3 separate regions of the Homo sapiens genome follow, and all the other regions are linked to region 1. The links come from fine-mapping of genetic effects on gene expression. A gene starts in region 1. Each other region holds a variant in brackets. All regions are shown on one strand. Distances are between the middles of the regions. Region 1 holds the start of CEP97 (centrosomal protein 97). Region 2 overlaps NXPE3 (neurexophilin and PC-esterase domain family member 3). Region 3 overlaps CEP97 (centrosomal protein 97).

What was found. PIP is the estimated chance that this variant, and not a neighbour inherited with it, causes the effect.
Region 2: its variant is fine-mapped to the expression of CEP97 in whole blood (GTEx, PIP above 0.99).
Region 3: its variant is fine-mapped to the expression of CEP97 in whole blood (INTERVAL, PIP 0.96).

The regions. Positions count from the first base shown.
Region 1 is chr3:101,722,122-101,726,259 of GRCh38, forward strand. CEP97 (centrosomal protein 97) reads left to right here and starts at 2,493. Exons shown (of 11, transcript NM_024548.4): 1 at 2,493-2,598. The coding sequence starts at 2,556. RefSeq lists enhancers at 273-332, 2,469-2,838, 3,119-3,188, 3,360-3,971.
Region 2 is chr3:101,827,368-101,831,505 of GRCh38, forward strand. NXPE3 (neurexophilin and PC-esterase domain family member 3) reads left to right here. Exons shown (of 8, transcript NM_145037.4): 8 at 1-864. It also overlaps a transcript of NFKBIZ not described here. Among named protein-coding and RNA genes, the nearest start is that of NFKBIZ, 20 kb to the right of the region's middle. RefSeq lists enhancers at 298-347, 498-677, 2,120-2,179. The variant T/TG (reference allele first, on the strand shown) is at 2,511.
Region 3 is chr3:101,759,629-101,763,766 of GRCh38, forward strand. It overlaps CEP97 (centrosomal protein 97), which reads left to right. Exons shown (of 11, transcript NM_024548.4): 10 at 2,857-2,932. Among named protein-coding and RNA genes, the nearest start is that of NXPE3, 18 kb to the right of the region's middle. The variant C/T (reference allele first, on the strand shown) is at 1,684.

The sequences.
Region 1 (4,138 bases):
TCAGGTGATCCTCCCGCCTCGGCCTCCCAAAGTGCTGGGATTACAGGCGTGAGCCACCGCGCCCGGCCTTACTTTGTTCTTACACATATAGTAAGATTGTGTTCTCTAGGTAAGGAGTTTCTTGGTTAAAAGGAAAAAAATCCTAGTCTTAATTGCCCCTTCAGAACTAGGAAATTTGTCTTTAGACCAAAGCAGCAGGAAACAAGAATCGAAAGGAGTTAAAACAAGTGTAGAGAGATAGGAGAACCCAGGAAAGGGGGAATGCTCAGAGAATCCAGTGCCTGGAAATCTAGAAGCATGAATTACTAGATTTTCCCAAGCAAAAATGATCAGACTTTGCAGATTGCTGTTTCAGAAAGAGGGGAGTTCAGAATAAAGGTTGCAAGAGGAAGTGGGAGAGCTGGTAGTAGAAAGCAGAAGTTTTTTGTATACTCTGTTTAGTTTCTCACTTCCTGTGAGCACAACTTCGTTACCACCTGCAGCCTGTGCTGTCTTTTCACCTTTTACTTTAGAACTAACTGTTCAGTCTACCCATCAAAAGATGGGTACATTTACTTCCTCCATCAAGTCTTCACTGAAGATTTCAGATTCTATTTCTTTCTCAATTCCCTGAAATATTAGTGAGCTCAGTCACAATCACACCGTTTAGCATATAATAGTTGCATCAAAAGAAGGCTCGGCGCCGTTGCTCACGCTTGTAATCCCAGCACTTTGCCGGGCTGAGGCAGAAGGATCACTTGAGCTCAGGAGTTCAAGGCCAGCCTGGGCAAAAAAAAATTGTCTCTAAAAAAAAAAAAAGAAAAAAGTGTGAGCCTGCTTTCTTCCAACTAGGCAATGTATTTCTTGAATTTGGAGACTATATAAAAATATATTTATATACATAATCTATATTTATATATAAATATATAACATATATAATATATAATATATAAATATATAACATATATAATATATAATATATAAATCTATAACATATATAATATATAATATATAACATATATAATATATAATATATAATATATATAACATATATAATATATAATATATAACATATATAACACATATAATATATAAATATATAACATATATAATATATAACATATAACATATATAATATATAAATATATAACATATATAATATATAATATATAAATATATAACATATATAATATATAATATATAAATATATAACATATATAATATATAATATATAAATATATAACATATATAATATATAATATATAAATATATAACATATATAATATATAAATGTATAACATATATAATATATAAATATATAACATATAACATATATATCTAAATATATAACATATATAATATATAATATCTAAATATATAACATATATAATATATAATATCTAAATATATGACATATATAATATATAATATCTAAATATATAACATATATAATATATAATATATAAATATATGACATATATAATATATCTAAATATATAACATATATAATATATAATATCTAAATATATAACATATATAATATATAATATCTAAATATATAACATATAATATATAATATCTAAATATATAACATATATAATATATAATTTATATATAATTATAATATATGCAATATCTATATAAAATATATATATTTTTGAGACATAGTTTCGCTCTTGTTGCCCAGGCTGGAGTGCAGTGGCATGATATCGGCTCACTGCAACCTCTGCCTCCCGGGTTCAAGCGATTCTCCTGCCTCAGCCTCCCGAGTACCTGGGATTACAGGCATGCGCCGCCACGCCAGGCTAATTTTTTTGTATTTTTACTACAGACGGGGTTTCTCCATGTTGGCCAGGCGGGTCTCGAATTCCCGACCTCAGGTGATCAGCCTGCGTTGACCTCCCAAAGTGCTGGGATTACAGACGTGAACCACTGCGCCCGGCCTGGAGATTATATTTTAAAGTTATTTTGAATACTCCCTGGAAAAGTTCTTGGTTCATACTTATACCCGTAAGTCAAAAGATTTGTCAAATATTCAAGAACAATCAAACAATCACTTAAAAATACTGTATAAAAGTTTCTATTTCGGCATACTTTACTTTTACTTAACTAAAATTTCAAATAAAATGTATCCACTTTTATGATCTCAACAAGATCGGTCATTCCTATAGCGGAGTTGAAAACTTTCAACTTATTCACAATTATCAAAAGAATGGAGCAGCCCCCACAGAGACTTCCAGCAATGAGTTGTAAAATGCAGTCTGCATTAAGTAGCTTCCTTACAATCATCCCGATGGTAAAAGTGTCAAATTTCGCAAACGCCTGGACAAGGAAGTGAAATGATCATCTAATAACGCAGTTGACTCATCTGTCAAATAAGCGAGTGGGCCAGGGTCCCTGAGCTCACTACCCTCAGATTCTAACTCCAGCTTCACATCATTAGGCGTAAGCAGCCAATTGGGCCGTCTGGGAGCCGTGCATCCTGGGAGTTATAGTTTCCGGCTCCCTCCTTCAGATTACAAGCTCCACAGAGCCGCGGGAGGACGGTTGCCTGGTATTATTAGCAAGCAGCAAATATGGCGGTGGCGCGCGTGGACGCGGCTTTGCCTCCCGGAGAAGGTAAGGCGATCCCTACCCCGAGTCCTAAGGTTTACTTCACGGAGCTGAATTAAATAGTGGAGAGCAGAAAACCTAGGTTTAGATGTGCAGTTCTGGACCAGTTCTTTTGATGCGGATCTGTGGTCGTCGCGGAGGCGGGCTACCCTCTGGGAGTTGTAGTTCACCTGCCGTTCCCAGCTCTCCGGCGTCGCGGTGAGGGCCGAGCGGGGGACTACAGCCCCCAGAAGCCTTCGCGCGGCCCGGCGCCCTGGCTCCCGCGCTCCCGATGCTGAGGAGGCGGTGGATTTCGGGCTGCGATGACCTTTCTTGACCATTTACTTTGAGTCATGGGTGCCTAAGCGAAATGTTTGGGATCTCCCTCTTTCGCTTCACACATCTCCCTCTCTTCTTGGTTCCTGGAACCATCAGGAAAACCTTCCCTCAGAGACCGCTGCCTAGTCTGGCTTTGAACCCTTCCTCGGAGGTGGCCAGTGGCCGTGATAAAATCTAAGGGATGATCCAGAGCCCGCAGTTCTGTACTCCTTGTTCTTGCACACGGGTCCTAGGATCGAGTTTGGTCGCTGCCCAGTAGAGCACAGGACTGTGTGGGTGCTTCTGTGGCCTGAAGATACCTACCTCTTTGGGGCGCCGGACGCGAGCTGCTTTTGTTTTGGTTACAGCTCCGAGGCTTGGCAGCAGTCAGTCCTCTAAATCGGGGACAGGGCCCAGGGGTCGAGGCCCGTCTTCATGGCTTAGACCAGGAGTGCATTTTCTGGGAGCTGTAAATTCTTGGGGGAAGAGTTGGTGGATGGTTCTCAGACCTCTCTGTCGACCCCTTGGAATTGTGTACAAAGGCTGTGCACTTTTCTGAGACAGCACACCCCTTTCATCAATTTTTCAGAGGGGCTCACGACTCCTCACATGCTAAGAGCCATTAGACAACGGGAAAACGTTGAAATCCTCCAGGAGAGCAATCTGGCATAATTATTTCCTGCAGTAGTCCTAATCTGGGTGTAAATTTGAAATTGGCCGTTTCTCTGGCCCCGCCCTCTTTGGAGATCGGCTTTTCTTAAACCACACCTCTCAAGCCCACCAGGGCTACTTAACTGTTAATAGCAGTTAACATTTACAGAGCACTTTGTATGACCCAGGCGATGTTCTCAGTCCTTTTTTTTTTTGTTTTTTTTTTTACATTATCTCATTTTCTCTGTAGAACTACATTTATAAGGCAGGTATTATCCCCACTTTACAGAGTAGAAAAGGGAGCCCAAAAGAAATCAATAATTTGCCTAATATACCACAATGGTTAATTGGTGGAGCCAGGGTTTGAACGTCTATGTTATACTAAAGTGCCTTATTGAGTGCCCGGTGGCAGGAACGGGGCTAAGTACTATTCATATGGTTTCTCTTTTAATTCTCATATCAAGCTAGGGAAATGGGTGTATTATCCTATTTTATGGGAGAATTAGTTGAACTATACTTTGATTTTCAAAATCACAGTTTGGGCACTTTAGGATATATTGGTAGTTAGGCTGTAAGCTGGTGGATTGCAGTCAAAAGT
Region 2 (4,138 bases), 110 kb after region 1:
TGAAAATAAAGTGATCTTCATGTTACAGGACCATTGCTTTATTTATGTCACAGATTTCTTGTCCTTTAATTAGTCAGTGAAGGCACATGATTGCGATACTACTTTTTGATTGCCGTATTGTAAAAGCTATATGGTAAAAGGTAACTCCCTCCACCCGCCCACTGCACCCTCACGTTTAGGGGCCACACAGAAAAAGCGAAATAAGATGAGGTGAATCTAATGAGAAGGCAACTCTAATGCCCATCAGGAGATTCACTAGGACATTTTAAAAGGACGTCTTTAAGGAAAAAGTTTTGTTTGTAGATGTTGCCTCTGATTCCTCCCTGCGGCTCCAGTCCAGGTCTTGGAGCCGGCCCTCGAGGGGAATGTCCGGGACTCGGGTCGGTACCTTTTTGGTCTGGGAATTTCCAGTGTGCAGAAAAAAAATCCACAAATCTAGGCCTCGCTGCCCCCTCCCTGCCTCCTCTGGCCCTCCTCAGTGCCCACGCAACCCGGTTCGAAAGAGAGGATGACCGTATTCTGCATTTTAGAAAACAGGCTCTTAGCTTCCCCCGCCCCCGTCCTCACTAGAGTGGAGAACTGAAAGCGAACGCTATAAAGGGCGCCAGTGAGAGGGGCTGGCCTCCTCTTGCCACGAGGTCAGACGGCGAGTTCTTAGAGAAAAAGGCTGCTTAGCTGCTGCTTATCATGTAACCTCAAAAGGAAACTGATCGTCTTTCTCATGCTGTCACGTACTTGGGTTATTATCGCTGATTACAGCTGGAAACAATTGATTTGCTCTTACGTATTTGTGTGACTTGACTCTTCAAACACAAAGGTATATTTTTATTATCTGATATTTTATTAAAATATCTTAAATGGTAAGATTTTTTTTTTCTTTTTCTTTCCTATTCCCATAGTCAGATTCTTAACTTTGGAGTCACTCTCCTATGTTTGAGTAGCCATACTTGCTTTGGGGCAAAATATTGGGGGATAGTTTTTTGGAGAAAGAAAATCTGGGATGTTTTTGTAGTTTAGTAATAGCAAGAATCATGTCTGTTTGCTTTAAAGGCCCAGGAAGGACTGAGATACTAATGGAGGAGATCGATAGAATGGGTGATGAAGTATCATAAATCTAATGTAACACTATCTTCTGTCAGTGACCTAGAACTATGATATCCCGAGGCAGAAGTCTCCCAGGAGATTTGATGTGTGGGTTTAGAGGAGTACTTTCCCACCAACCGTAGGCATGAAACTATATGGGAAAATATATCAGAGTAAATTGAAATACTTTATAGCATGCCCTCATTCATTCTTACAGCTGTAAAATTAAAATGTATGAATGGCCATTTTATGAATGAGGAAAACCTGAAATTTGATGATTTGGCTGGACCCCCAGATTCATGATAATCTGTATATGTTAAGGGGTTTTGTTTGAATAAAAGCACATTTCTAAATAGAATGGATTAGAGATTCTCTTCATTGGGATTAGTGAATTCGCTGCAGTGGCTGAAGGTGCTGTCCCAAAGAGGATGACAGTTACGTAAATTTTAAGCATTTGGTAATATATATTTCCTCTATTTAAATCTGACATCTAAAGAAATATCTGGCTGGGTGGAATATTTTTTTGCTTCTGTTAGACAGTAGGTTGTTTAGACAATAAAAGGAGAGAAAAGTTTATCCTAGTCTCATTCACCACCCCGCATAATCCCTGATGGAGCAGGGCATCAGCCACACAGATCATCTAAACAGGCAGATAACCCTGCCTGTTTATTTATTTGGCCTCAGAATACGGTGTATGGTCCACCACCCCTCTCCACCGTCTTTCTAACATCATCCTGCTGAGGCCAAAGACACAGTTGGGCAGGGTACAGGCGTGGAGCACTGCGGTGGCAGAGTCAGTCTGAGAGGAGTTAGCACATGACATCAGTGCACAGTGCAGATGACGGAAACATTTGGCAGCATCCTCTCCAGTGTGGAGGTGATGACCGAGGTCAGCATAATCCAGCTGTTCAGATACAGACTTTTCCTCACTGAGGAAGAGGAGGCAAACCCTTCTCTTTCTTGTCCTGTAACAGACAAGACAAGAAAGCTCTCAGAGAGCAAAACAAACCCTTTCAGAAGCTACAGAGCCATGGAAAGCATTACTGAGGGGAAAGATTTTCTAATTGTTCTGAGACCAATAATGAATTGCTCCTGAAAACACCATTTTCTTTTGGCTCATAGCTGACACTGATCTGGAGGCCTCTTGATTTTTTTCTCCCAGGTTAACAGGAAGATCTCGAGGGCCCTGGCTGAACTTCACCTTTTGGCTTTCTTGGCCTGATGCTGAACTCTCGAGGGTGAGAAGGGCTGATATTTCTAAACAAGTAGCATCCAGGTGTTACCTAGCTTCTGGCTGATGTCAAAAAGGGCAGTGGGATTTTTCTAAGATTTTTCTCTTAAATTAGACATTTTTTTGAAGTTGCTACAAAATTACTATGAATTTTATTTATAGGCATTTTACTGTGATTTCATGAGAACTAAGATTT[T/TG]TTGTGTGTGTGTGTGTGTGTGTGGTTTAGTAGTATTTTTTTAAACCAATTTGTTGAATTTCTGCTATTTTCCATAGCAAGAGGACATATGAATACATCTAAGAGGGGAATTCAGCTCTCTGCTTACTGACAGTTTCAGGGTTATGTAATCTTTAACAGGCTTGGAGAGCATCATGCCCCCTCTCAGTTTTGGTGAAGAGGCTCCTTAAAACTAGCATATGTGGTTTCTGATTAAAGCACTTTCTGTTCCTTTAATTTGGGATTGTCTGTGAAGTAAAATACCTTCCTTTCAACCGTAGGGAATGAAAATATTTACTGCCGCTGATGGAGTTAGTGGATTGGGAATTAACACTTATTAAACACTTGTTTTGGGAGCTTACCAGCAAGATCTCATTTAGCCCTACAGCATTTTTTAGGTAGCTGTAATTAGCTTTATTTTATTTATTTATTTTTGTAACTTCAACTTTTATTTTAGATTCAGGGGGTGCATGTATAGGTTTGTTACCTGGGTGTATTGCGTGATGTTGAGGTTTGGGGTACAACTGATCCCATCACCCAGGTACTGATCATAGTTATTTTTCAGCCCTTGCTTTCCTCCCTCTCTCCCCCATCTAGCAGTCCTCAGTGTCTTTGTTGCCATCTTTATGTCCTTGAGTATCCAATGTTTAGCTCCCACTTAAAAATGAGAACATGTGGTATTTGGTTTTCTGTTCCTGTGTTAATTCACTTGGGATAATGGCCTCCAGCTGCATCCATGTTGCTGCAAAGGACATGATTCTATTCTTTTTTATGGCTGTGTAGATTTCCACAGTGTATACGTACCACATTTCCTTTATCTAGTCCACTGTTGATGGGCATCTAGGTTGATTCCATGTCTTTGCTATTGTAAGTAAGTGCTGCAGTGAACATACAGGTGCATGTGTCTTTTTGATAGAATGGGAAATATAACCACGACAAATGGTGAATTCTGTCATGGTTATATTAAACAATAATCACAATGCTACATTCTCTATACATGATACCAAATATCTGAATTAAACTTATCAAAATACTGTTAATTACCTAGATGTTATATCTATAAAATGCCAACCTCCAGATATTTGGAGACATTAAAAATGATTTTTTCACTGTTTGTTCAGATATTTAGCAACATGCAGGCACTTTTAATATTGGTAGAAGACTTTTGGATATGTTTTAGCATTGAGTAGTTTATGTGCATCCCCATTCCTCTGATTGTTTCAGTCAAGTTTGCTAGACAGCCTAGTACTGTGAATCTGTAGAGGGTCTAATACTGTAAATCATGCGTTCTTAGAGAGGGTGATATTATCTCCAAGAGGGCAAAAATAGGTTCTTCAGGGAAAAATCTTAGCTATTACAATAGTTTGTGGCCCCCAAAGGGCCATAGTACATAATAGATATACAGTATATCTGTGATATTAAACTTTCATCAGGGGATGATTAGGAAAAAGATGTCTAAAAAGACCCTGTAGTGGGGTCTAATACTGAAAGAAAGGTTGAGACATGTCATTGTAAATGCTCTGGATGTACTTATTCAACTGAGGTCAAAAGATTTTTCTGTGGTTTGTTGTCTTTTTGTGTCTTGCTTTGTGTCTACATCCTCATTTTTC
Region 3 (4,138 bases), 38 kb after region 1:
AGTCAGGATATTCCAAGGGCTTGGAGATTATCTCCCAGGAGTCAGTCAAGGGCCAGTCTTATCTTTGCAATGTACAGTGTTTGAACATCCCCATCCTGCTGAGTTAACTCTTTACTGCACAGTGACCTTCCCAAGAGCAGCTTCAGTGGTGTAGAGGGATGAAGGCCATTTTGGAATGGGTTGAATAGTGAATGAGAGGTAAAGAGTTTGAAGGATGAGTGTAGCCAATTCTTGGAAAGAGTTGTTTTGAGGAAAACAAGAGAAAAGAGAGTTAAGTGGTGTCTGGAGGAGAATCTAGATTAAAGGAACATTCTCTTTTGTAGATGAGAGATATAGAGTTTGTTCATGTGTTGATGGAATGAATAAATAAGGAGGGAAAAACTGATGGTGCAGCAAAAAAAAAAAAAAAAAAAAAAAAGAGGAAGAGCAGGATTGCAGTTCTTGAGAAGGTAAGAGAGGAAGAAATGTAGTGTCGAAGTAGAGGAAGTGGCCTGAAATGGGAGCAGGAGCAGGTAAGGTGGTAGGTTTGATGGTGGGAGATGGGAAAAAGTCCTGTCTGATGCTGCTTCTTTTTCAATAATGTATAAGATGTGGTCAACACCTGAAAATGAGGAGAGGGTGAAGGAGGTGTAAGGAGAGAAGTATGAGGTGTGAGGTAGTTATCTTAAACATGACCTTATGAGGAAAATGGAGGAGGGTTGCTGGACAATGTGAGAAAATGCTTAAAAGTGCAAAACAATAGGTCAGGTTGTATGATTTTCATCAGCAATTCTTAGCTGCTCTGGTCTGATTCAGGCATGGTTAATTTGGTTCAGCCAGGAATGATTTTTTTTCCTAGGTGATATTGTAGAGAGAGCAGGGGAAGGGCAAGAGAGCTGAAGATATTTGAGAGGGAGTAATAATGATAGATCTTAGATTTTATATGTTTTTTGAGATGGGGTCTTGCCCTCTTGCTGAGGCTGGAGTGTAGTGGCGTGATCATAGCTCACTGTAATCTTGAACTCCTGGGTTCAAGTGATTCTCCCACTTGAGGCTCCCAAGTAGCTGGGACTATAGGCATGCACCACCATGCCCAGCTAATTAAAAAAAATTTTTTTAAAGAGATGAAGTCTATGTTGCCCATCTGGTCTTGAACTCCTGGCCTCAAGCAGTCCTCCTGCCTCAGCCTCCTAAAGTTCTGGGATTACAGGTGTGAATTACCTTGCTGACTGGAATTTTATTTTTATTTTTTATCTAAAAAAATTTTTTTTTGAGATGGAGTCTTGCTCTTGTCACCCAGGCTGGAGTGCAATGGTGCGATCTCAGCTCATTGCAACCTCTGCCTCCCAGGTTCAGGTGATCCTCCTGCCTCAGCCTCCCGAGTAGCTGGGATTACAGGCACCTGCCACATGCCCAGCTAATTTTTTTTTTGCATTTTTAGTAAAGACAGGGTTTCACCATGTAGGCCAGGCTGGTCTCAAACTCCTGACCTCAGGTGATCCTCCTGCCTGGGCCTCCCAAAGTGCTGGGATTACAGGTGTGAGCCACTGTGCCCAGGCTGGCTGGAATTTTAAATGAGGTAAAAGGGAAGTGAAGGCAGGGGGGAAGGATCATTGGACTGAAGGTCTAGATTGTTGCAGTGGGGTACAACAGCAAGTGAACTGGGAGGATAGGAAGTAGTGGTTGGTGTTGGGTGCTTAGAAC[C/T]ATTTCTGAAAGTAGTGTAGTCAAAATGATTTGGTCTAGGGTGAGACTATGAGAATGGGTGACTGACATGGGGTGGATTATTGTTAGAGCATCCATGTGAATGTTGAGGTCTCCAAAAACGATGACAGGTATGGGGCAAAGAGAAAGCCTGGTGCTGAGACTTCATTGAATGGGAGCAGATGGTGGGAGGTCAGTACTTGACAACGAATTTTGGGAAATTTAGCAGGATGGCAGGAGTTAAAGGAGGGAGATGAAGAATCATTTGAAAACAATAGTGAGAAGCAATTTTTGAACCCTGATGTGTGACAGGGAAAAATAGCTTCCACTTCAGAGGGCTATAGTGCTCTCAGAAGTGGGTCTGCTTTGGACAAGGAAAAGTTCAGAGAGAGATGGAGTATATAAGGGAGTTTGCTAATTATAATTCAGGAGTTCTAGATGGCACAGGAGAAAGGCTTGGGGGGCTAGAGAAAGTGGAGAATTGGGTCAGAGGTGTGGAACAAAATGGTCTTGACAGTTTGGGTGATAATGGATCACTAAAGGAGGAGCCTTAGGTTTGTGATAGGCCTAAGTATGGAGAGAACAGCAGTGAGCCCAGACCTCAGACTTTGATGAATGAATGAGGAATAATGGATGGGAGGTCTCTTGTTAGCAAGGAGTAGGTCGGAGACCTGGGGAAACAGAATAGTGAAGTTTGATGGGATTAGTCTTTAGCAGAGGGTGTTTCAAGCTGGATCACGAGTACTTAAATGTGACCCTTAATTGTTTTGGAGGCTTTGGATAGCCACTCCTTTTTTGCACTTTCTGTTCCTTTGGTTTGTTTGGCTGAGAAATTGAAGCCAGACAAAGAGCCATTTAACATTTTATTTTATTTCTTATTACTGGAAATACTTTGTAGAACTAATACCTGTATTTCAGTCATATCTCCTTTGGCTTCTACTTTGAGTCACAGTTCAAAATTAAGGTTTATGATGTCACTTATAAAACTGTTCCATTTTGATTCTGAGGTTAAAAAAATAAAAATAAAATAAGGTTTTAATTTAGATATTCTAAAAGTGGGAAAGACAACTATTAGATTATTAATCTCTTTACAATGCATGTGTTTATGAGTTGTAACAGGAAGTCTGAGTCAAAGCACCCTTCCTTATGTCAATAATGTGTTTTGAATTATTGTAGATTACGAAAAGAAAGAGATGAAGAACGTATTAAAAAATTTGTACAAGAAGAAGCTTTCAGATTCCTTTGGAACCAGGTAAACTCCCTCCTGCTGATTTACCTCATATATGATCAAATACAGATTCTATATTCATTGAGATAATCATAGAGTACTCAGGTGTATTAAGCACTCTTGTTCAAGGTTAAGGGTATGGCTTGTGTTCTTCGCCACTAACTGTGAACTAGGACAGTGAATTTTCTTGCATTTTATTTAATCTGAAGAAAAATATTCTGACAATTTTGACAAGAAAAACAAAATAGTATAAAGCAGGAGGAAAGTGGCTTAACTGAAGGCTGTTAGAGCTTTCCAATAGATACAACAACCCCAATTTGAAATTTCATGTAGCTATCGATCTGTCTTTTGGGAATATTTGAATGAATTGTGATTAAGATGGTATATGACTACAATATGCATGTCCTAAAAAGTATTCATAACTGTATAGGAGAGTATTTGAATCCTATAATAGCACACTTTAGGGACAGTTTAGGCAGTTGGTTTTACTAGCATTGTATCACATCAAATACTTCTTGATGATAATTTCTTGAAAATATTTTAATAAAATTTTCATTTCTTCTTTTTTATAGAAATGGGGTCTTGCCATATTGCCCAGGCCGGTCTCAAACTTCTGGGCTCAAGCAGTCTTCCCTCCTCAGCCTCCCAAAGTGAGCCACATCACCTGGCCAAATTTGTTATAATAGGATTTGACCTATAAAATGAAAAAATAATTATTGATTTGTAAAGTTTTGTAGTTACCAACAATAGAGGAATGGTTAAATTATAGAATAATAATACTGTGGAATACCATGGAATAGTTAAAAAAAATAAGGTAATGGTATTCACCAACATGGAAAGATCTCCAAAATAATACTGTTTAGTAAAAAAAAAAAACAGCACTAGCGCATTACAGCCTTGAACTCCTCAAGTGATCCTTCTGCTGCAACCTCCCAAGCAGCTGGGACTACAGGCACACACCAGTGTGCTCAGCTTCCCTGTATATTTGAAAATACGACCTAGAAAAAAGTCTGGAAGGATATGCATCAAGTTGCTGTCAGTAATTACCTTGGGCGGGGGGTCAAAGGGAAACTAAAAACTGTACATACTGCTTTCTTGTTTGCAGTTTTTACAGTAAAATTTTGGAATTTTTGTTATACTTTAGAAATTAGGGGTCATATTATCAAGAATTTGGTATGTTTTTAGGTATTTTAGAAAGTTGCATATACTATATTGTTAGCTAATACTTAA